2 separate regions of the Homo sapiens genome follow, and region 2 is linked to region 1. Evidence: fine-mapped expression QTL. A gene starts in region 1. The other region holds a variant in brackets. All regions are shown on one strand. Distances are between the middles of the regions.

The links.
Region 2: its variant is fine-mapped to the expression of TMEM165 in tibial nerve (GTEx, PIP above 0.99).

What each region holds. Positions count from the first base shown.
Region 1 is chr4:55,390,014-55,401,623 of GRCh38, forward strand. TMEM165 (transmembrane protein 165) reads left to right here and starts at 5,944. Exons shown (of 6, transcript NM_018475.5): 1 at 5,944-6,383. The coding sequence starts at 6,177. RefSeq lists silencers at 5,750-5,949, 6,150-6,619 and an enhancer at 8,120-8,169.
Region 2 is chr4:55,359,315-55,370,924 of GRCh38, forward strand. SRD5A3 (steroid 5 alpha-reductase 3) reads left to right here. Exons shown (of 5, transcript NM_024592.5): 2 at 32-174; 3 at 4,760-4,957; 4 at 8,274-8,408; 5 at 10,518-11,610. The coding sequence ends at 10,777. It overlaps SRD5A3-AS1 (SRD5A3 antisense RNA 1), which reads right to left. Exons shown (of 4, transcript NR_037969.1): 4 at 7,287-7,849. Among named protein-coding and RNA genes, the nearest start is that of LINC02928, 13 kb to the right of the region's middle. RefSeq lists enhancers at 5,262-5,950, 5,951-6,638. The variant C/T (reference allele first, on the strand shown) is at 5,638.

The DNA.
Region 1 (11,610 bases):
TGCTGGGATTACAGGTGTGAGCCAACGCACCCAGCCGAGCTCACATTAAACTTTCATTCAGAGATTGTTTTATCTTTATTCTCTGCCCATTTAGAAGTCATTACTTTTAAGCAGTGGAATGAAATTATTTTAATTTTGAAAGCTCATTCTGGCTGCTGGTTAGATTCTAGATTGGCAGAGGCAGGGAGACCAATTAGGAGCCCATTTAATTGTCCAGGTGAGAAATGACACCTGGTTTGTACAAGGTGGTAACAGTGGAGATAGAGGTGAACAGATTCAGATAGATTTTAAAATTAGAGACAAAATTTGCTGGTGGATTGGATGTGGGGTATGGGGAATCTAATGGAGTAATCTAATATGGTGGATGTTGGTTCCATTTACTAAGATGGAAAGCCTGAAGGAGGAACAGGTTTTTGGAGGGACATCAAAAGACCTGTTTTGCCCTTGCTCTGTTGGAAATGCCTGTGAAACATCCAGAAGGTGATGCAAGGAAAGAGTTGGATAAATGAACCTGGAGCATGTATTTAGCATTCTTTTTGGAATTTTCAGCCTGCTTGTGGAAACCTAGGAAAGCCCAAGAATGTAGGGAAACAGCTGCCCTCCCTTTCCCCTGCACCAGCAGAGTTCGCATACAAGGGTCCAGATCCCCATCATTTAAAGGGGTTTAGCAAGCTGATGGGTAGCAGTGTGCTTCGTTTCATGAGCTTTAAAGAGTTGAGAAGGTCAAGCAAGTTGCATATTGCTATTCGTCATTCACTTACATTTGCTGAGTGCTTTAATTTTTTTTTTTTTTTTTGAGACAGAGTCTTGCTCTGTTGCCCAGGCTGGAGTGCAGTGGTGTGATCTCAGTTCACTGCAACCTCCACCTCCCGGGTTCAAGCCATCTCCTGCCTCAGCCTCCCAAGTAGCAGGGACCACAGGCACACGGCACCACACCCAGCTAATTTTTGTATGTTCAGTAGAGATAGGGTTTCACCACATTGGTCAGGCTGGTCTCAAACTGCTGACCTCAGGTGATCCAGCTGCCTCGGCCTCCCAAAGTGCTGGGATTACAGGTGTGAGCCACCGTGCCCAGCCTGAGTGCTTTAAATTTGAATGATCTTCAGTTGACTCTTAGCGTGAAGTTTCTGGTTTTTGCTTCTCCTCTTTCCTCATATCTCCCTGCCCTGGCTTCTTTAACCAACCTTTGCTCTGTGGACTATTTAAGGAAAAAACTTTAATCGGCCCTTTGCTGATTATGGGGAAGGAGGGTTCTCCAGCAGAGCTCAGGAAATAGCTCACTTCTCCCTATTTCTGAAACATTGAGGATGAAAACAGAGAGTGACACAGACAGGAGGCCGGGTTGGAAGGAATAGTTTTAGGTCTGGTGGCCAGGTGGACTGGGCTAATACTGAACTCCAGAATCAAGAGCTGTTGAGTTGCAGGCTGCACTGGGCTAGGGGCAAGCCCTGGAGAGAACAGCAGATAATGTTTTTCCCTTAGGGGTCTGTCTCCCCAGAGGAAGAAGGCAATGAAGCTGAGCCCAATATGCTCAGTTACCCTGCTCAGATGGACTCTACATTATCAGAGGGGAATGACGAAGGCACTGAAAGAGGCCAGGAAATAGTCCTTTTCTTTTTCTTTTTTTTTTTTTTTTGAGACAGAGCATCTCTCTGTCGCCCAGGCAGGAGTGTAGTAGCGCGGTCTTGGCTCACTGCAACTTCCAATTCCCGGATTCAAGCGATTCTTCTGCCTCAGCCTCCCAAGTGGCTGGGACTACAGGCACACACTACTACGCCTGGCTAACTTTTGTATTTTTAGTAGAGACGAGGTTTCACTACATTGGCTAGGCTGGTCTCAAACTCCTGACCTCATGATCCGCCCGCCTCGGCCTCCCAAAGTGCTGGGATTACAGGCATGAGCCACCGCACCCAGCAGGAAATAGTCCTTTTCAATAGAACCCTAGAGTGGAGAAACAGCATTCTCTAACAGTTAATGAAAATGTTCACCATTAATTAATTGGCTGGTCTTATATATTTAAATTTTCATAAAGTAGATTTTCAGTAAGTGGAGCATAGGTGAATTCAACAAACAGGTATGAGGCATAATTCTGCTACTTACTAGCTGTGTAATTTGAGGAAAGTTCCTTGACCTAAGTCTCAGATTTCTCATTTGCAAAAAGGAGGATAGAAATAATTCATGTAACACACTTAGTGCTCTGACTGGATCAGAATAGCATTCAATAAAGTTTTACTACTACTTTAATGATAACTATTCCCATTACCTTCTTATATAATCTACTAGGTGCTAGAAATATAAAGATAAAAGGCATAACCTTACCATCTAGAAGCTTAAGGCTTAGTAAGGGTGTTGGAATAAAAGACATTAAAATACAGTGCAGGCCCGGCTCAGTGGCTCACACCTGCAATCCCAGCACTTTGGGAGGCCGAGGTGGATGGATTACTTGAGGTCAGGAGTTCGAGACCTGCCTTGCTAACATGGTGAAACCCTGTCTCTACTAAAAATACAAAAATTAGCCAGGCATGGTGGCGGGCGCCTATAGTCCCAGCTACTTTGGAGGCTGCGGCAGGAGAATCGCTTGAACCTGGGAGGTAGAGGTTGCAGTGAGCTGAGATCGCACCACTGCACTCCAGCCTGGGTGACAGAGCGAGACTCCATCTCTACATAAATAAATAAAAAATAAAATATAGGTCAGGCACAGTGGCTCATGCCTATAATCCCAGCACTTTTGGGAGGCCAAGGCGGACGGATCACGAGGTCAGGAGATCAAGACCATCCTGGCTAACATGGTAAACCCGTCTCTACTAAAAATACAAAAAATTAGTGGGGCGTGTAGCACATGCCTGTAATCCCAGCTACTCAGGAGGCTGAGGCAGGAGAATTGCTTGAACCCGGGAGGCGGAGGCTGCAGTGAGCCGAGATCTTGCCACTGCATTCCAGCCTGGGCAACAGAGCGAGACTCCACCTCAAAAATAAATAAATAAATTAATTAAATAAAATACAATGTAATGCACATGTAGTAGGGTTTCTTTCCATAGGATGCCTGACAGTGGTTACATTTTAGTAAGACTATATCGGTGTAGGCTATGATTAAAAAATATATCATCTTGGAATTGTTGCGCCACCCACATCCTTATTGGGTAGGGGGTTAAATAAGTAGCTTCAGTTGTCCTTCAAGAAAGGTATCAGGAAAGCTCCTATAGTTTTTTAATTGCTTTTTTTAAGGGAGTTAGTCACCAATGAGGACTAGAAGGATGATGGCTCTAAACCCTCAAGGTGGTGAAAACTGGAGCCAGCCTCGATTTAGCACGCCTGAGCACGGATCCCAGGAGGTAGATGTGTGTGGAAACAGAAATACCAGATCCCATGAGAATCAGACACCTAGAGCCTAGCCTGGCAGCACCTGAAGGCCCTTGGATCAGGGTGACACTGGGGCAGGCTAGAAAGGTCTCACTCTGGCCCAGATTCTGATGCTTTGCTGACACCACTGTGCCAGTTCGCCAATGCTCTATCTCCATTTATGTTACATCTTCTGCCAAATAGCTTTGCTGCCTTGCCCCTGAACCACTGCATGCTCAGCAGCTGGTGCTTCAGCATCCTGCAGCTGTAGCCCAGAAGTCCTCACTGCCTCATATGTTGAGATGACTGAATTTGGCCAGGAGTCCTTCCTGTGAGAAAGCCCTGGAGTGTGGGCAGCCCATCCTAGAAAATAAACAAAGCAGCTTTCAGCAATGAGGGACACACAGCCAGTTTTGCTACATTCACCCTTCTGGCTCTGTCTTCAGCCTAAGCTGCTCCTTTCAGGTCCCTCCCTTGGGACCTCAAGCCTCCCTTTCAGGCCCCTTTTAAGCACAGCAAATCCTGTATGCATTAAGGGGAGGTAGTTGAAGTTTGGGCTTCTGGGTTTTATGTTATTACTGGCTTCTGAAAGCTCAAACATTTGCACTCCAGGGATGATAGTTGCATCTGTTAAATTTAGTGTAAAGCTGCCTCCTTACATATTTTAAGTTAGGCCTAAAGGTTTCCCCATACATGGTGAACTGTAGCCTAATTGGGTATGTAAACAGACTGTAACCTATTCTTGTACCAATCACAGAGTTCTGGCCAATCACAAGTGGCCAACTGTTCAAACCGTGTTCAAATAGGGCAAACCTGAGCTACAACCAATCCAGCTGTTTCTGTCCCTCAATTATGTTTTCTGTAAGTCACTTTATTTTTTCCGACCACTCGGCAAGACTGGAGCCTCTCTGAACTTACTTTGATTTGGGGTCTTTTTGATTTGCAGATCATTCTTTGGGTTCTTTGCTTGATTAAACGCTGTTAAGTTTAATTTGTCTAAGGTTTTTCTTTTAACACACCCCAAACTGTAAGTGGAGGCATCCTACTTACACAGTAATAGAAGAATGCATAAAGCAATAACATGAAGGAACAAGTGACAAATTCTGTAACGCCATGTGTTGGGGAAAAGTTCTGAGAGTGGAAGCTTGAATAGGTTTTGGAAGTATGAGTAGGAGTTTACAAGGAGAGAATGGAAGAAGGGGAATTACGGACAGAATAACATGGACGGAGGCCGGCCGCGGTGGCTCACACCTGTAATCCCAGCACTTTGAGAGGACGAGGCCGGCAGATCACCTGAGGTCTGGAGTTCGAGACCAGCCTGACCAACATGGAGAAACCCCATCTCTACTAAAATTACAAAGTTAGCCGCGTATGGTGGAGCATGCCTGTAATCCCAGCTACTCGGGAAGCTGAGGCAGGAGAATCTCTTGTACCCGGGAGGAGGAGGTTGCAGTGGGCCGAGATCTCACCATTGCACTCCATCCTGAGCAACAAGCGCGAAACTCCGTCTCAAAAACAAAAACAAAGAAAACAACAAAACAAAAAAACAGACGGAAATTTTATTATCCTGTGACAAACACTGTATCTTTGGTGAACTCAAAGTAGGTTTGCCCACTTTCCCACAGATTGTTTTGGTGGATTAATTTTTTGTTTCAGTTAGTGATAAACTTCCTTAGCTCTTTACTGAGTACAGGTTTACTGTATGTAAATATGTATAATATTAGATTAGTGCCTGGCACATGGTTAGCACTATCGATTTTTATTAGGGACTAGGTCTCAAACTTATGGTAATTAAGTAGCTCACTTTTTCTTTTGGGAAGACGTAAAAATATTCTCAAGCCTAACTCAAGACCATCCTTTCCTGTCTTCTAGTCTTGCCCACTCAAAGCTCCATCCTGCAAAAGTCTTAAACAGTCCATTTCAAAAGCCCAGCATTTTTAAAGGGTCTAAGGAATAGCACAAAACAAGATGCACCCAAAACGTCAAGGCCATACTGGACAAGGGCAACGTTAGCCATTTTTGGTCTGGGGTAATTATAGGCAGTATCTTAAAACAAGGCTTGAAAAATGTCATGTTATTTCCAAATCCCATTTCAGAACTTTAAAAAAAAAATAGCATTTTGAGCTCCTAAGAACGTTTTTGGCGGTAGGTGGCCACATGGAGGGTGGCACAGAGGCTCGGCGGGGGAGAGCGGAACAGAGCTGGGCGTGGCAGTGCCTGCGAGTCAGCGCCACGTAACCAGAGGCGCTCGCACTAATTTGACCTCTAAGAGAGACTAAGCGCAGGGAACAGCGGGTGCGGACATTACGGCGGAAGGCTCTGGAGGAAGCAGAAGTGAAGGACCTCGCAGTCCTGGGACGGTGGGGCACAGAGAGAGAAAGGGAGCCCCGGGCGCGGCGCGGTGAGGATGCGAGCAGAGGAAGGACACGCGGCGCCGGGTACCTGCCGGGAGCGCCGGATCCAATGGGAGGAGGGCCCGCGCCGCACCTCAACCTGGCAGAGGACGTCACGACGCCAAGGCGGTCGCCGGGCCAATGGGAGGCCGTCGCGGGCAGGGACGGGGCCGGGAGGAGTCGGGGCTGGGCCGCGCCGAGGCAGCTGGCTGACTCCAGTTTAGCCGCCGCCGGAGAGGACGGGCGCCGAGCCGGGGCTGCGGACTTCGGCCTGCCCCTCACCTCACTCCCGCTGCTTGCACCTCCCGGATGGTGCTGACTGCTCCCTAAGCGGCGGCGGCGGCGAGTCGTGAGGACGCGCCGCGGAGGCTGTTCGGGGTCGAGGCTTCCCGTCGCCGGCACTTCCTCTTGCGGCGCCCGTGCGCGGCCGGCCCGGCAGGCGGGATGGCGGCCGCGGCTCCAGGGAACGGCCGCGCATCGGCGCCCCGGCTGCTTCTGCTCTTTCTGGTTCCGCTGCTGTGGGCCCCGGCTGCGGTCCGGGCCGGCCCAGATGAAGACCTTAGCCACCGGAACAAAGAACCGCCGGCGCCGGCCCAGCAGCTGCAGCCGCAGCCTGTGGCTGTGCAGGGCCCCGAGCCGGCCCGGGTCGAGGTGAGCGGGCCGGGATGGGGCGAGCGAGGCTGCAGGGCCGGCTGCGCCGAGTACCAGGCTCCAGGCCTTTGAAAGCGCCGCACTCCGCCGGCCTCGGCTGGGGGAGGGGAGCCCGGCCCCTGCTCCCGGGGTGGAGGGCGGTCGGCTGCGCTGTTTTCCGGTGAGGCCTGGTCTTGCCCGCTCCTTTAGGGAAAGGGAGAGGGAGAGTCCAAGAGGAGCCCGCTATAAACGTTGATCTCCGGAGGGCCAAGATGCTGCTCCGGGATGGGCGTTTTATTGATCAGATGTGTCTTAGAGTAGCTAGAAAGACTCATCCCTACCAAAAAGTTTTTAACAGAAGGCTGCTAGGAGGCTTTTTGTATTCCCTGAGGATCATCACATCGGCCATTTCATTGTTGAAATAGCTTATGCCAAACTGCTTACCCAAATTCAACTTGGCACTGCCTGTGCTTTTTGCCAAATATGGATTATGAACCATGACTCTCACTTTTTAAAAATGTGCTTTGGCTAGCAGGAAGTAGCCTTTAGGAACGCAGAGGAATTAGTCTCCGGCAGTACAGCGTGCTGCAGCGATGTGGGATGCCAAAACTACATTTATAAGTAAAACAGAATCCTGTATTTTGTCCTTCCCTGAATAGATACTAGAAATCAACTTTTTAATCTGTTAATAGAATTAGTCCTTAGTCACTTGGCAGCGTTTTAACATTTCTCCCTTCTCCCAGTCGTGGGCTTTGTCGTCATTTCCAGTATCTGCTCCCTGAATCCCGGCCAGTGTGGCACTCAAACCCCCACTCCCACCCAGGCCACATCCAGCCCATCTCCACGTAACTAATCTTCCCGAACATTGAATTCTGCCATCTTGTCAGAAGTCGTCGGTGAGTTGCCTCCACTAATTTCAGTCCAGCCTTTTTAGGAGAGTGATGTTCAGGTTTCTTCTGATCTGGCTCCAGCTCACCTCCAGGCTTTTTAGCCACCGCTTTCTTGCTCATATGCTAAAGGGATATGCTCATCTGCAAAAAAGAATGTGCTTCAAGAGCCCTTTGGGACAGGCTTTGTGCTCTCTTGCCAGTTCCTCCCTAACACAAGACCTTTTCAAAGAAAAAAAAAAAAAGACCTGGAGTTTGAAGCCACGGATCAACTCTTCCCACCTTGGAGAACCAGCAGATACCTACTCTCTGTGAAGACTTCCCTAAAATTTCTTGGTTAAGGGTGATTTATCTGACCCTTTCCTTTCCTTTCCTTTCCTCTCCTTTCTCCTTTTTCCTTTCCTCTCCTTTCTCCTTTTTCCTTTCCATTCCTTTCATTTCTCCTTTCCTTTCCTTTTTCCTTTCCTTTCTCCCTTCCTTTCCTTTTTCCTTTTTCTTTGTTGAGACAGGGTCTCGCTCTGTCGCCCAGGCTGGAGTGCAGTGGCCCCGTCTTGGCTCACTGCAACCTCTAATTGATCCTCCCACCTCAGCCTCCTGAGTGGCTGGGACTGCATGCGTGTGCTGACACGCCCGGCTAATTTTTGTTTATTTTTTTTTTTTTTGAGAGAGGAGGTCTCACTATGTTGCCGAGTCTAGTCTCAAACTCCTGGGCTCAAGCGCTTCTCCGGCCTTGGCCTCCCAAGTGCTGGTGAGCTCTCACACCGGTGCATTGTTTTCGTGTTTCATGTTTTCGTTACATGTTACTTTCTTAGGCTTTTCCAATTTTCTGTTGTTTTTCTGTGTAAGACCGTAGGATAGAACTTTCTGAGAGACTGATCTTGGTTTCACTAAGCAAGAACATTTGTAAGAATCAGTGCTGTCCCAGATGTAGTAATCGCTATTGAGAAATAATGAAGTTCCCCTTACTGGAAGTACTCAGGAAGAAGTTGAATAACTAACTGCCTATGAGGAGATTCTGATATGGGAGGGAATCTGGGAGATAAAGTTACTGGGAAGTGAAGATTCTGGGAGCCGATTTAATCCTCACAACAGCACGTTAAACAGGTAGAGGAGGTTTGTAAGGAATAGTGGTTTAATATCACAGAGCTAGAAGCTAGTTTCAGCAGAACCAGAATTAGAATCTGGACTTCTGTGCCTTACTAAGTTTTATTAGCATTCATTGTGTCTTACTCTTTTGACTTATTTAATTCACTAATGGATTTTAATGGTTTATTGGATTGTATGCTGGTGCAGTTCTTTGATCTTGAGCCTAGCTTTCTCTTTCTCCTTTTTTGGGAACTTTATTGTGTATGTTGTGGCATGTTTACACACACATCTTGCTGCCTTGGGTTCTTGCAAGTTGTGTGCGTGTTTTATCTGCCCCTACTAGCTTTTAGGTGTCTTGAGAGCATGACTCTGGCTTACTCATCTGTCTATTCCAGAAGACCTTGTCTGTTCTTGGCATTTATTAACTAATTTTCTAAGACTGGGTTGAAGTAGTTGCATGTCAAGTTTATATCAGCTGTTAAATACCTTTCTGGAAAAACTGGCTGTAAAATAAACTCAACCAGGAAAAAAAAAAAAAAACAACAACCCGATTTTTAATAGTGTCTATCCAACCTTTTTTTTTTAAGTTGCAAGGGATCCACCAGATGGAATTAAGAGAACTAAGCTTTTATCATCTGCTGGATATAATGTGATTTTGTAACCATTATTGGATTGGTGTTGGTTTAGACAGTTTATTTTCAGCTGACTATATAGTTAATTCCGGGACTCTTATAAAGTTTTTTTTAAAAAGAGAAAAAGAGAAGATCAAAAGCACTGGAACTCAACGAGTAAATAACCCATGGTAACAGAGAGATATAATGCAGTGATGTCAGAGGTGTACAAGAAGTGTGAATCATTTAACATGTGAAGCCAGGGTCTTTAGTCCACTTGGGGAGAGCAAAGAGGTGAGTGGGCTTCTCCATCTTTTTCCTTCTGCCTGCCCTGCTACCCCCAGCCATATGCTTAGGAGTGGGGTTCCCATTTACACTGCCCTGCTTGTCGCTCCTGGCTCAGCTGACCCTGCTTGACATGTCCACTTCAGTAATTGAACTGAAACGCTGATTGATGAACTTAATTCTTAGTGTTCATCTTTTAGCCCTGTCATTTACCCCAGTATCACATTTATTTTAAAACAATAACTATTTTGGATTAAGTTAATTGTGTGAGTGAGAGATTATGAATATGTAACTTTGCAGGTATTTTGTTGAAGTTTTAGTCATATTGGAATTTTTAAGATAGAAATGATGGTAGGTGTAGAGCTACTAATATCCTTTTTAAGAAGCTAGGAAAAATCTAGCCATGCAGAATGCCACAGTGGTAGAAACAGTGTCCAGTAAACATATTAAATGGTCTTAAGGATTCTTGTCTTTTAAAGTTTTATTTAATTTTTTTTATAGAGACAAGGTCTTCTTATAGCTCATAACTCATTGCAGCCTCCAGCTCCTGGACTCAGGCCATCCTCCTGCCTCAGCCTTCTGAGTAGCTGGGAAGGGATCCTTGTCTTTAAAACTAGGGGTATGGAGGGAAGGGTGGGTATAATATAATATGATTTTTCCGTTTAATATTTTCATATATTCTTGGTGATTCATTTTAGTTAGGCATTTATTTATTATTGTTTATTCTAATTTTGTATTATAATAGAATATAATTGTCTTCTTTTCTTCCTTTTTTTTTTTTTTAGAGACAGGGTCTCACTATGTTGCTCAGCCTGCCCTCAAACTCCTGGGCTCAAGGGATCTTCCCCTCTTGGCCTGCCAAAGTGGTGGGATTACAGGCATGAGCCATCATGCCTGGCCTTGTCTTGTTTTTATTTTATATATATAATATATATAAAAAATAATATATAAATATATAATTTATATTTATATTATATATTAATATATTAATGTAATTAATATTATATTATATTAATATATAATATATAATATAATATTATATATTATATATAATATTATATATAATATTAATACTGTATTATATATAATATAATATTAATTATATTATATTAATATAATTAATTATATTAATATAATAATAATAAATAATATTAATATAATTAATATATTTATATTAAAATATAAAAATATAATATATATAATATATATATATTTTTTTGTCTCACTCTGTCGCCCAGGCTGGAGTGCAGTGGCGTGATCTTGGCTCACTGCAAGGTCTGCCTTCCAGGCTCACGCCATTCTCCTGCCTCAGCCTCCAGCATAGCTGGGACTACAGGCGCCCGCCACCATGCCCGCCTAATTTTTTGTATTTTTAGTAGAGACGAGGTTTTACCGTGTTAGCCAGGAGGTCTCCATCTCCTGACCTGGTGATCCGCCTGCCTCGGCCTCCCAAAGTGCTGGGATTACAGGAGTGAGCCACCACGCCTGGCCTTAATTATATTTTTATGTAACTTTTTGATACTACTCAAGTATTTTTTCCTCTACGGTACTCACTATGCTGAAAGATTTTTCTTTCACATGTTTTCTAAACTATGTAATATAAGTGTCATTGGCTATTTTTGTCCACCTGATGGAGGTAAGAAATGATCAAAGTACAGTTTAACAGCAGTATTAGCAAGAGTTGAGCCTTGCTGAATATGTAAGTTTCAACGGATTTGCTTTGCAACTACATGCAGTAGATGTTTTAAGAGGGTAGGTAGGATATTTAAATTTAACCTTTTTGTGCCACTGTGTGAGAGTGGGCTTCTGAAAATGGAGGGGGGAAGCATCTCTCCTTGGTTAGTAGGCATTCAAGTGGAAGATATGTTATAAAAACCTAGTTGTATCTTATAGGATGCTAAAAGCAAGGTGACTGAACTTCTAACAGGGCATTCTACATTGAGTATGTGCTTTTCTCTATAATTAGGCTAAAAAAAGGTTGGTAAGTAATATGAACTTAAAATCAAGATTAACCCCCAATTTACAAACCCATGATAAAAAGTGTTGTTGATTACTTGGATCCTATCTTTTCTGCAGTTTATGTTTCTAGTGACTTACTCAATAGTTTTTTCTTACTCTTTCCCTGGACAGAATATGTAATATAAGAAACATAAGTCCTTTGAGTTGAGGGAGATCAGATAGATTTAATAAAAGTCATTTAGACTTTATTGCATATTCTGGAAGTCCAAAGAAGAATGACTCTGGTTGCATAGCACTTCTAATAAAGCCACAAAATCATTACCTGACTCAGTGCCTGTTCTTGTTATCATATTTTTACTTTATGTTTTGGTATTTCATTTATTTATTACGTTTCAGCTGTGAGAGTACCTTCTACAAAAC
Region 2 (11,610 bases), 31 kb before region 1:
AATTATTGCCTCGCTTGTTTTCCTTTTGCAGATATTTTTCCCACTTTTATATCATCTCAGTGCTGTGGAATGGCTTCCTGCTTTGGTGCCTTACTCAATCTCTGTTCCTGGGAGCACCTTTTCCAAGCTGGCTTCATGGTTTGCTCAGAATTCTCGGGGCGGCACAGTTCCAGGGTAAGGACTCCCTGGGCTTATGACAACGCTGCATCCCGTTTCTGTTGTTCCTGTCTGCAAGGGAGCAGTTTTTGGCATTTTGTCTCCTCTCTCGGCACCTCCTCAGAAGGGCCTGGGAAGTGGAGGATGAGGGCAAAAAAGAGCTTTGCACGGTTCATTGCCGGATGGCCAAAAGGATGTCCCTAAGCCCTTCCCTGAGAAGGAGACAGAGCCAAGAGTTAGCGCTCCTGACTTCCCAGCAAGTGCTGTGTTGTGTGCAGAACTGGCTGCCCTCCCTCTGGTATTTTTAGTACTGTTGATAAATTTATGAAGAAGTCTTTACACAAAAGGGGGAAAGCTTTTAGGATCTGTCAGGTTTGTCTGGAAACATTTATCATTTATACTGTTCCAACCAAACTCATGACTTAGAACTCCAGAAATGTGATTTAAAAATTACTTTTTCTGTCGGGTGCGGTGGCTCACGCCTGTAATCCCAGCACTTTGGGAGGCCAAGGCGGGCAGATCACAAGGTCAGGAGATCGAGACCATCCTGGCTAACACGGTGAAACCCTGTCTCTACTAAAAATACAAAAAAAAGTTAGCTGGGCATGGTGGCGGGCACCTGTAGCCCCAGCTACTCGGGAGGCTGAGGCAGGAGAATGGCATGAACCCGAGAGGCGGAGCTTGCAGTGAGCTGAGATCGGGCCACTGCACTCCAGCCTGGGCAACAGAGCGAGACTGTGTTTCAAAAAAAAAAAAAATTACTTTTTAATTCATACCTGTAATCCCAGCACTTTGGGAGGCCAAGGCAGGCAGATCACTTGAGATCAGGAGTTCAAGACCAGCCTGGCCAATGTGGTGAAACCCCAACTCTACTAAAAATACAAAAATAGCTGGGTGTGGTGGCAGGCGCTTGTAATCCCAGCTACTCGGGAGGCTGAGGCAGGAGAATCGCTTGAACCTGGGAGGCGGAGGTTGCCATGAGCTAAGATTGAGCTACTGCACTCCACGCCTGGGCAACAGAGGGAGACTTTGTCTCAAAAAAATAAATAAATAAATGAATAAAATAAATAAAAATTACTTTTTGATAAACATGGAAAAAAAGTTATGCTGTGAGGCTTTGGTAGTATAATAAAATTGACTAAACAGTTGTTGAACAGACGATTACAAAATAGCCTTTAAGTTTGCCATCCTCAGCATCAGGATGAAGAATATGGAACGTTTTTTTTTTTTTTTCTGAGATGGAGTTTCGCTCTTATTGCCCGGGCTGGAGTGCAATGGTGCAATCTTGGCTCACTGCAACCTCTGCCTCCCAGGTTCAAGCGATTCTCCTGCCTCAGCCTCCCAAGTAGCTGGGATTACAGCCATGTGCCACCACGCCCAGCTAATTTTGTATTTTTGGTAGAGAGATGGTGTTTCTCCATGTTGGTCAGGCTGGTCTCGAATTCCTGACCTCAGGTGATCCACCCGCATTGGCCTCCCAAAGCGCTGGGATTACAGGTGTGAGCCACCGCGCCCGGCCAGAACAGTTTTTAAAATAAAGAATTGAAGGTGAAAACTATGAAATGTCCTCAATTAAGGTCAGGCAGAGTGTGAGGGGCAGAATTAGAAACAAATTGTTCTAGTCTCATCTCTGTCCTTTGTTCCAGTGGCCAAACCACCTAGAAACAATCCTTTTCTGTATAACCAGATAAACTGGTTGCAAAAGATGACAATCAGAAGAGCAAACCCCGGCCGGGTGTGGTGGTTCATGCCTCTCATCCCAGCACTTCAGGAGGCTGAGGTGAGCAGATCACTTGAGGTCAAGAATTCAAGACCACCTTGGCCAACATGGTGAAATCCCGTTTTTACTAAAAATACAAAACTTAGCTGGGTGTGCTGGCACATGCCTGTAACCCCAGCTACTCGGTAGGCTGAGGAGAGAGAATTGCTTGAACCCAAGAGGCAGAGGTTGCAGTGAGCCAAGATTGTAACGTTGCACTCTAGCCTAAGAGGACAGAGCAAGACTCCGTCTCAAAAAAAAAAAAAAAAAAAAGAGCAAACCCTGCCGGGAACAGTGGGCAGTGACTCATACCTATAACCCCAGCACTTTGGGAGGCTGAAGCAGGTGGATCACTTGAGGTCAGGAGTTCAAGACCAGCCTGGCCAACATGGTGAAACCCCCGTCTCTACTAAAAATACAAAAAATTAGCGGGACGTGGTGGCGCGTGCCTGTAATCCCACTTACTCAGGAGGCTGAGGCAGGAGAATGGCTTGAACCCAGGAAGCAAAGGTTGCAGTAAGCTGAGATCATGCCACTGCACTCCAGCCTGTGCCACAGAGTGAGACTCCATCTAAAAAAAAAGAGCAAACCCGTGGACATCCTCTTTGGAAGGGTAGGCTACATCAGCGGATCTCACTCCACTCGTTAAAACTTCATCTCTTCGTTTGTTTACTGTGAGACTGACTGGGGTGTTTTGGTATTTGGAGGGTTGGTTGTGAGGATATGAGGAATTCTATTTGTTTGCTTTAACTTGTTCCTAAGGAGTTAAAACTAAGTTTTAGTTCATTTAAAATACAAAAACAGTCAAAGCTAATCTGTGCTGATAGGGGTTGTTCCCCATGGGAAGTTTGGGGGAGGGGTCGTGCCTACACTAGGGGGTGCTGTTCGTGTTCTGTTTCTTCTTTTTTTTTTTTTTGAGATGGAGCCTTGCTCTGTTGCCCAGGCTGGAGTGCAGTGGCCTGATCTCAGCTCACCACAACCTACCCCTCCCGGGTTCAAGCGATTCTCCTGCCTCAGCCTCCTGAGTAGCTGGGACTACAGGCATGCGCCACCATGCCCGGCTAATTTTTGTATTTTTAGTAGAGACAGGGTTTCACTCTGTTGGCCAGGCTGGTCTTGAACTCCTGACCTTGTGATCCGCCTGCCTCAGCCTCTCAAAGTGCTGGGATTACAGGCATGAGCCACCGCATCCAGCCTGTTTCTTTTGTTTGTTTCATTTTTTTCTTTCTTTTTCTTTTTTTAAGAGAGAGGGTCTCACTCTGTTGTACAGGCTGGAGTGCCGTGGCATGATCATAGCTCACTGCAGCCTTTAACTCCTGGGCTCGAGCAGTCCTCCCTCCTCCACCTCTTGAGTAGTTGGGACTACAGGTGCACGCCACTATGCCCAGCTAATTTTTTTTTTAATGTTTTTAGAGATGGGGTACCTGCTGTGTTGCCCAGGCTGGTCTCAAACTCCTGGTCTCAAGCGATCCTCCAACCTCAGCTTCCTAAAGTGTTCTGTTTCTGGATCTGGGTGCTGTTACATGGGTGGGATTGGTTGGCTTAATTTGTAAAAGTTAATTAAGTTGCATCTTTATGGTGTGCATGCGTGTGTGTGTGTTTGTGTGTGAGACTTTTTTTTTTTTTTTTTTAATGGAGACAGAGTCTTGCTCTATCTCCCAGGCTGATTGCAGTGGCCCAATCTTGGCTCACTGCAACCTCCACCTCCCAGGTTCAAGCAGTTCTACTACCTCAGCCTGCCAAGTAGCTGGTTCTACAGGCGCACACCACCATGCCTGGCTAATTTTTTGTATTTTTAGTAGAGACAGGGTTTCACCATGTTGCCCAGGCTGGTCTCGAACTCCTGAGCTCAGGCAATCCACCCGCCTCCAACTCCCAAAGTGGTAGGATTACAGGCATGAGCCATCGCCCCCGGCCGTGACTCATTTCTTTTTTAAGTGACTGGGCGTGGTATCTCACACCTAAAATCCCAGCACTTTGGGAGGCTGAGGCTGGAGGATGGCTTGAGGCCCGGAGTTCGAGACCAGCCTGGGCAACAAAAAAAATTTTTTTTTAATTAGTCAGGTGTGGTGGCACATGACTATAGTTCTAGCCACTCAGGAAGCTGAGACAGAGGATCACTTGAGCTCAGGAGTTCAAAGCTGCAGTGAGGCCTGACTGTGCCACTGCACTCTAGCCTGGGTGACAGAGCAAGACCCTGTCTCAAAAATAAAGAAGTTGACACATAAAATTAACCAAAAAATAAAAAACAAAAAAGAAAAAAAGAGAAACTAAGTGTGTGTTTTTTTAAAGCCAGCTTTTCTTCAGATTTTTTGGTGGGCAGGTCGTGAAAGACAGGTGAGGAAGTAGATCTTGGGCTCAGCATGCCTCTAAAAGTATAATTTCTTTTTTTTAATGTGGAAAGAAATGCATAACTCTGTTTCTGTTCCTGTCCCCCTCTCTGCCTCTGTGATGCCTGAGATACTGGGGATCCCACAGCTGGGGCCACTCAGAGGCTACCAGGAACGCTTCCAGTTTGCATCTGGCTGTTAGTGCCAGGACCAGAAACCCACAGACCTCTTCACAGACCTCCTGACCGTGATGTCCCTGAAGCCTGGAAGGCTGTCACACAATGAAGCAGAATTGAGTGATGGGTGTTTGTGAACCCAGTGAACTGTGTAACACAGTGAACTGTGTAATTTGAGTGAAGTCAAATTCCTTGACTTCATTTGGCCCATTTCTTCCTTACTACCAAAAAGAAAGATGTTAGATGGGATTTAATACTTTGCTTAACAGTACAGAAAAACAAAACTTTGGATTAATCCCAGAAGAGAAATGCTGACCCTGTTGCCTTCTGAATTGTAGGAGGGGAGCTGGCACTGTCTGCATTCTTAGTGCTAGTATTTCTGTGGCTGCACAGCTTACGAAGACTCTTCGAGTGCCTCTACGTCAGTGTCTTCTCCAATGTCATGATTCACGTCGTGCAGTACTGTTTTGGACTTGTCTATTATGTCCTTGTTGGCCTAACTGTGCTGAGCCAAGTGCCAATGGATGGCAGGAATGGTGAGTGGATCCAGCCCTGCCAGGAGCTCCCCACCCCAGGGTGTATGATGCGCTCTCGGGGCTTGTGCTGTGCTAAGCATTATGAGACATGCAGAAGTAAGAGACAGGCCCAATGCATTTTGCATTTCAGGAGATGAGACTCAAGTCGATTTTAAAAGGCCGGGCGTGGTCGCTTACACCTGTAATCCCACCACTTTGGGAGGCTGAGGCAGGTGGATCACTTGAGGCCAGGAGTTCGAGACCAGCCTGGCCAACATGGTGAAACTCTGTCTCTACTAAAAATTAAAAAAAAAAATTAGCCAGGCGTGGTGGCACACGCCTGTAGTCCCAGCTACTGGGGAGGCTGAGGCAGGAGAATTGCTTGAAACCAGAAGGTGGAGGTTGCAGTGAGCCGAGATCGCGCTACTGCACTCCAGCCTGGGCAACAGAGCGAGACTCCATCTCAAAAAAAAAGAAAAGAAAATGAGGGAAGGGAGAGTGCTTGCATGGAGTTGGGATTTGCAGAGGGGGTGGGGAGCCATTTTGTTGCCGCTTAGTTCCTGTGATTGTTCCCATCACAATAGAGCTTTTCTTCAAGTGACGCTGCCTGAGAGGAGAGGACAAAGAGTACTGTGGTAGTGAAAATTGTGTTTTAGTCTCTAAGCTCTCACTAGCCAGGAAGAGGGGAGCCAAACCATGAC[C/T]TTGTTTACGAGAAGGAAATGAAATGGATTTTTTGTTTTATGGGGGGAGGAGGGGACATTACCTAACACATATGACTACCATTTTTGTAAAAACAATGCATGATTATAAAGAATTCAAGTCGCTTGGGGTGATGGGAATGAGTTTATAGTGCTGAGGTTAACCTGACCTTGCAGCCTTAGTATCTGTCAGTCTAGACCCCGTAGGTCTGTAATGACCATTGTCTCTAAACCCAGGGCTCCATGTTTTCAGCTGCCCTGTCCATCCTTGTAAACTCAGGCTGAGGTCTAGCGATTTCCAACAATCTGTGAGTGAGCTTCCTCCTCAGGTTAGATTTTGGTATGAGTGCCCCGTGAAAGTCGTCTCTCTGTTGCTGTAGCTCAACCTAAGGCCTCTGACTAGAGGAGTGATTTTAAAGGATTTATTGACGATCTTTCTCAATTCATGAATTATTGATTGGCTCCAGCCACTTAGCTAGCATCTCTCTGATTCCTCTGAACTTATTCCTCCCAGGCATGTCTGTGGTGGCATTCTGCCAGCCAGTACCATGGAAGGGGCTGTCATTCCTGGTGGGCAGTGCTGGTTCTCCCCCTAAAGGAACTTTGCAGAGCGCTTGGTGACTGCTAGCTTTTAGCGTGTTCTTGTTTGTTGGCGTTACCTGCCTCTCCCGGAGTTTCCTCTACTGGCTGCGTCTCAACTTCTGCCTTCCCTCCTGCGTAGATAGTCAAGGAAGAGGAGCCCACAAAAATAGCTTTCTAAGCACTCCTTTCTGAAGCTGTTTTCTGTTTCACCTCCTTGTCCTTCAAGGGTCATCTGGGATCATTTAGGACAATATGGGGAAAGTTGGTTTCAGTAATTCATTGAGAGAAAACACATTGGGGCATTTGCCAACCAAAGGGCGTGATAGAAATAACATGGGCTCCAGAGTCTTGATGGGCCTGCATCTGGCTCATTGAGCTTCTCTGAGCCTCACAGCCTTCATTAGTAATTATTGACACATACTGATTTCACAGGGTTCTTCTTAAAGTGAAAAGAAGACTATCTGTAAACTAGGATGTAAGCTCTATAAGGACTGGGATCTTGCCTGACTTATTCCCTGCTTTATCCTTTGTGCCTTCAGCAGGGCCAGGCTTAGGAGGCACTCCTTAAGTAACTAATGAATAAACAAATAATTAAATACTGAGTAGAACTGAGGAAATGTGAGCCTTCCACCTGCCTCCCTTTTCCTGCATTATAATTCTGGCGTTACCCTTAACAAATCCTTTTTCCTGTAGGTAAACTCTCTGCATTTAGCATAAGGGACTTAGTGATTTGAACTTCCAGACACTGTAACTTTTCATCCTGTTGACTTGCTCTTGAAGCCTGTCAGATTTAAAACTGTATTTTTAATATTTTGCTTATTTCATTTTTGTAGAGACAGGTTCTCGCTATGTTGGCAGGCTGGTCTCAAACCCCTGGCCTCAAGTGATCCTCCTGCCTTGGCCCCCGCAAAGTGCTGGGATTACAGGTGTGAGCCACTGTACCCAGCCTGTTTTGAACTTATAAAAATATAACCTAGTAGTTAAATGGCTAAACTTGTAAACACTAAAAGACTATAGTAGATTGATTATATAAAACAAGCTTTTAAAATAAACTGACACAGGTAGACCGGTGGATTTTCATCAGTCCTTTACTATCATTAACGGATTCCTGCTTCGAGGTGGCCATGTGGAATTGCATGATCCTTGGTTCTCTTACTTGAATCAGCTTTTTAGGGTTCCCCCTTGGCTCCAGAGCCTCAGGCTCTTGCCCATTATCAGTGGATACATTTGTTTCTTCAGTCAAGCCTCCGACTAGGCTAACTGCTTCCTGCTGCGCAGAGGGAAGTCCCTGTTTGCTTTTCTGAAGCCAGTGGTTTGCTCCGCAGGTCCTCAGAAGGTCTGTGTTTTTCCCTTCTTCCTAGCAGCCGGAGAAGAAAGTGGAAGATGATGCTTTGAGTGTTTCCACTCCTGAAACTCAGTCTCTCGACTGTTCTTTCTCATCCAGACCTGGATGGCATTGAGTTGTTCATCTTGCAGTTTACTGTCCCTCTCTTTTGAGAAAGCCCCCTGGTAGCCTTTCCACTGGTGATTTCTTTCATTGACCAGAGCTAGTCAAGTCAGCATTCTGCTTTCAGGCTCTCCCTAGCAGGATGGTAGCTCAGAGAGAGATTTCCTTAGAAAGTGTTTTTCTTCACTGTAAAACATAAGAAAGAAGACTTAAAACTGGACTTAGCAAGGGAAACACAAAGGAATCTTACCATTCGAAAGTAGATCACAGTAGGGGAGCTGAACTTTGTGCTTGAACTGTTTAGAGAAGAAGCAAGAGAATGTGTCTGTGTGGAATTCTCTTGCCAGGGGAACTGAAGCTGCCCATAGCTGAGGAACGTATCTCCTTTGTCCAGAGAGACAGGGCTTTTCCCTCTGTATTGGGAAATTACATCAGGAAATTACATCGGGATATTGAGGAACAGGTTCCCCTCTTTGTACTTGGGAAATTATATTAGGATATTGAGGAACGGAATAAGTGGATAATTGTGTTTCTGCTGACTAAATGATTTGTTTAATTCCCTGAGCCTGTGAAATTGTTTAGTGTTGGCTAACAATTCTCATTCCTATAGCCTACATAACAGGGAAAAATCTATTGATGCAAGCACGGTGGTTCCATATTCTTGGGATGATGATGTTCATCTGGTCATCTGCCCATCAGTATAAGTGCCATGTTATTCTCGGCAATCTCAGGAAAAATAAAGCAGGTGAGACCTCTTTTAGAGCCTCTGCATATGGATTTTAACCCTCAGAAGTTAGTTCTCCATGGTCCTGCATGCTTTTCCTTCCTGCCCTAGTTAGTTGACTGTATCAAATATTGATTTTTGGCAAGACACTTCTCTGGGCCTTGATCTTCCCATCTGTGAAAATGAGAGCCTTACATTGAAAGACCTCTCTAGACCCAAGTAGCCCTGACATTCTGTGATTCTACGTTTTGTGTCTGATCAGCATGTGAGAGCTAGTGTTACCATGGAGTTAGTACCAGCCACAGCATAAAAACTTGACCTTTAAGTTAGCTTGTGTTGACTTATCACAGGTATAGTTTCCATTAGGTTTTTTGAAATATTAAAAATTGAATAGGCCAGGCGCAGTGGCTCACGCCTGTAATTCCAGCACTTTGGGAAGCCAAGGTAGGAGGATCACTTGAGGTCAGGAGTTCAAGACCAGCCTGACCAACATGGCAAAACCCCGTCTCTTCTAAAAATACAAAACTTAGCTGGGTGCGGTGGTGCAGGTGCCTGTAGTCCCAGCTACTTGGGAGGCTGAGGCACTAGAATCACTTGAACCTGGGAGGCGGAGGTTGCAGTGAGCTGAGATCACGCCACTGCGCTCCAGCTTGGGTGACAGAGCTAGACTGTCTCAAAAAAAAAAATTGAATAGTTTTATTTATTTATTTATTTATTTATTTATTTATTTATTTAATTTTTGAGATGGAGTCTTGCTCTGTTACCCAAGCTGTAGTGCAGTGGCACAATCTCGGCTCACTGCAACCTCCGCCTCCAGGGTTCAAGTGATTCTCCCGCCTCAGCCTCTCAAGTAGCTGGGACTACAGGTGCGCACCACTATGCCCAGCTAATTTTTGTATTTTTTAGTACAGACAAGGTTTTGCCATGTTAGCCAGGGTGGTCTCGAAATCCTGACCTCAGGTGATCCACCCACCTCGGCCTCCCAAAGTGCTGGGATTACAGGCGTGCACCACTACACCCGGCCTATTATTTATTTATTTTATTTATTTATTTTTGAGACAGAGTCTCACTCTGTCACCCAGGCTGGAGTGCAGTGGCACCATCTCAGCTCACTGCAACCTCCGCTTCCTGGATCCAAGCAATTCTCATGCCTCAGCCTCCCAAGTAGTTGGGATTACAGGCGTGTGCCACCACATCTGGCTAATTTTTATATTTTTAGTAGAGCTGGGGTTTCACCATGTTGGCCAGGCTGGTTTTGAACTCCTGACCTCAGGTGATCCGCCCACCTCAGTCTCCCAAAGTGCTAGGATTACAAGCATAAGCTACCGCGCCCAGCCAAAAAACTGAATAGTTTTAATATTTATCAAGTACTTATTTTGTCCCAGGCCCTGTTCTGAGTGCTTTACATATAGCTTCACAATGCCGACATGAGATGACTACAGTCCGGTCTTCATTTTACAGATGAGGAAACTAAGGCACAAAGAGGTTAAGCAACTTATCTAAAGTTACACAGCTAGTAAGTGGGAGAGCCAGGATTTAAACTTGTGCAGTCTGACTCTGGAGTAGTCTGAGCTCTTAATTACTAGCTTGGAGGATTGCTGGAGTAACTGGCTTTTCTCTTGTGCTATGGACAGTTGACAATTTAACCTAAGCATATAACTTTTCAATATGTAATTGACAGTAGAAGTGTGACAGGATGGTGGTTTACACACATGTATGATACTCTTTTCTAAATAAGAGTTTCTGGGCTGGGCAGGTTGGCTCACACTGGTAATCCCAGCACTTTAGGAGGCTGAGGTGGGAGGATCACTTGAGCCCAGCAGTTTGAGACCAACCTGGGCAACATAGGCAGACCCTGTCTCTACAAAAAATTCAAAAAATGAGCCAGGCATGGTGATGCATACCTGTGGTACTAGCCACTGGGCAGTTTGAGATGGGAGGATTGCCTGGGCCTGGAAGGTTGAGACTACAGTGAGCCATGACTGCACGACTGCACTCCAGCCTGGACAACAGAGCAAGACTTTGCCTCAAAAAAAAAAAAAAAAATTCTGTAAATGATTTGCGAGTGAAGTGGTGAAACTTTCTTTTCAAACCTTTAAATGCTTATGAGATCTTCTTTTACCCTTTCAGGAGTGGTCATTCACTGTAACCACAGGATCCCATTTGGAGACTGGTTTGAATATGTTTCTTCCCCTAACTACTTAGCAGAGCTGATGATCTACGTTTCCATGGCCGTCACCTTTGGGTTCCACAACTTAACTTGGTGGCTAGTGGTGACAAATGTCTTCTTTAATCAGGCCCTGTCTGCCTTTCTCAGCCACCAATTCTACAAAAGCAAATTTGTCTCTTACCCGAAGCATAGGAAAGCTTTCCTACCATTTTTGTTTTAAGTTAACCTCAGTCATGAAGAATGCAAACCAGGTGATGGTTTCAATGCCTAAGGACAGTGAAGTCTGGAGCCCAAAGTACAGTTTCAGCAAAGCTGTTTGAAACTCTCCATTCCATTTCTATACCCCACAAGTTTTCACTGAATGAGCATGGCAGTGCCACTCAAGAAAATGAATCTCCAAAGTATCTTCAAAGAATAAATACTAATGGCAGATCTGCGATTTCTGGGTCCACTTTCTGAGATGCTTTCTAAAACCAACCAACTGATAAAAAGTAGATGAGACTTCTCCAAGCTGCTTCACAAGCAAACTAACCGAAAAACCGAAAATATACAAACAGCTTCACACACACACACACACACACACACACACACACACACACACAAAGGAAGATCATCAATGGCTGCGGTAGCCTAGTAGGAATGGACTATATAATAATATAGCAGGTGCTCAATAACTGTTTGTTGCATTTCAGTAAAAGCAGAATAACCTTTCAAAATAATAACAGGCTGGGTGCAATGGCTCACACCTGTTAATCCCAGCACTTCGGGAGGCCAAGGTGGGCAGTTCGCTTGGGCCCAAGAGTTCGAGACCAGCCTGGGCAACATGGTGAAACCCTATCTCCGTGAAAAAATATGAAAATTAGCCAAGAGTGGTGGCACATGCCTGTAGTCCCAGATACTTGGGAGTGGGCTGAGATGGGAGAATCGCTTGAGCCCAGGAGGTCAAGGGTACAGTGAGCCGAGGTCATGCCACTGCACTCCAGCCTGGCCTGGGCAACAGAGCAAGACCCTGTCTCAAAATAATAATAATATATAATTTTACACCAAAAGTTT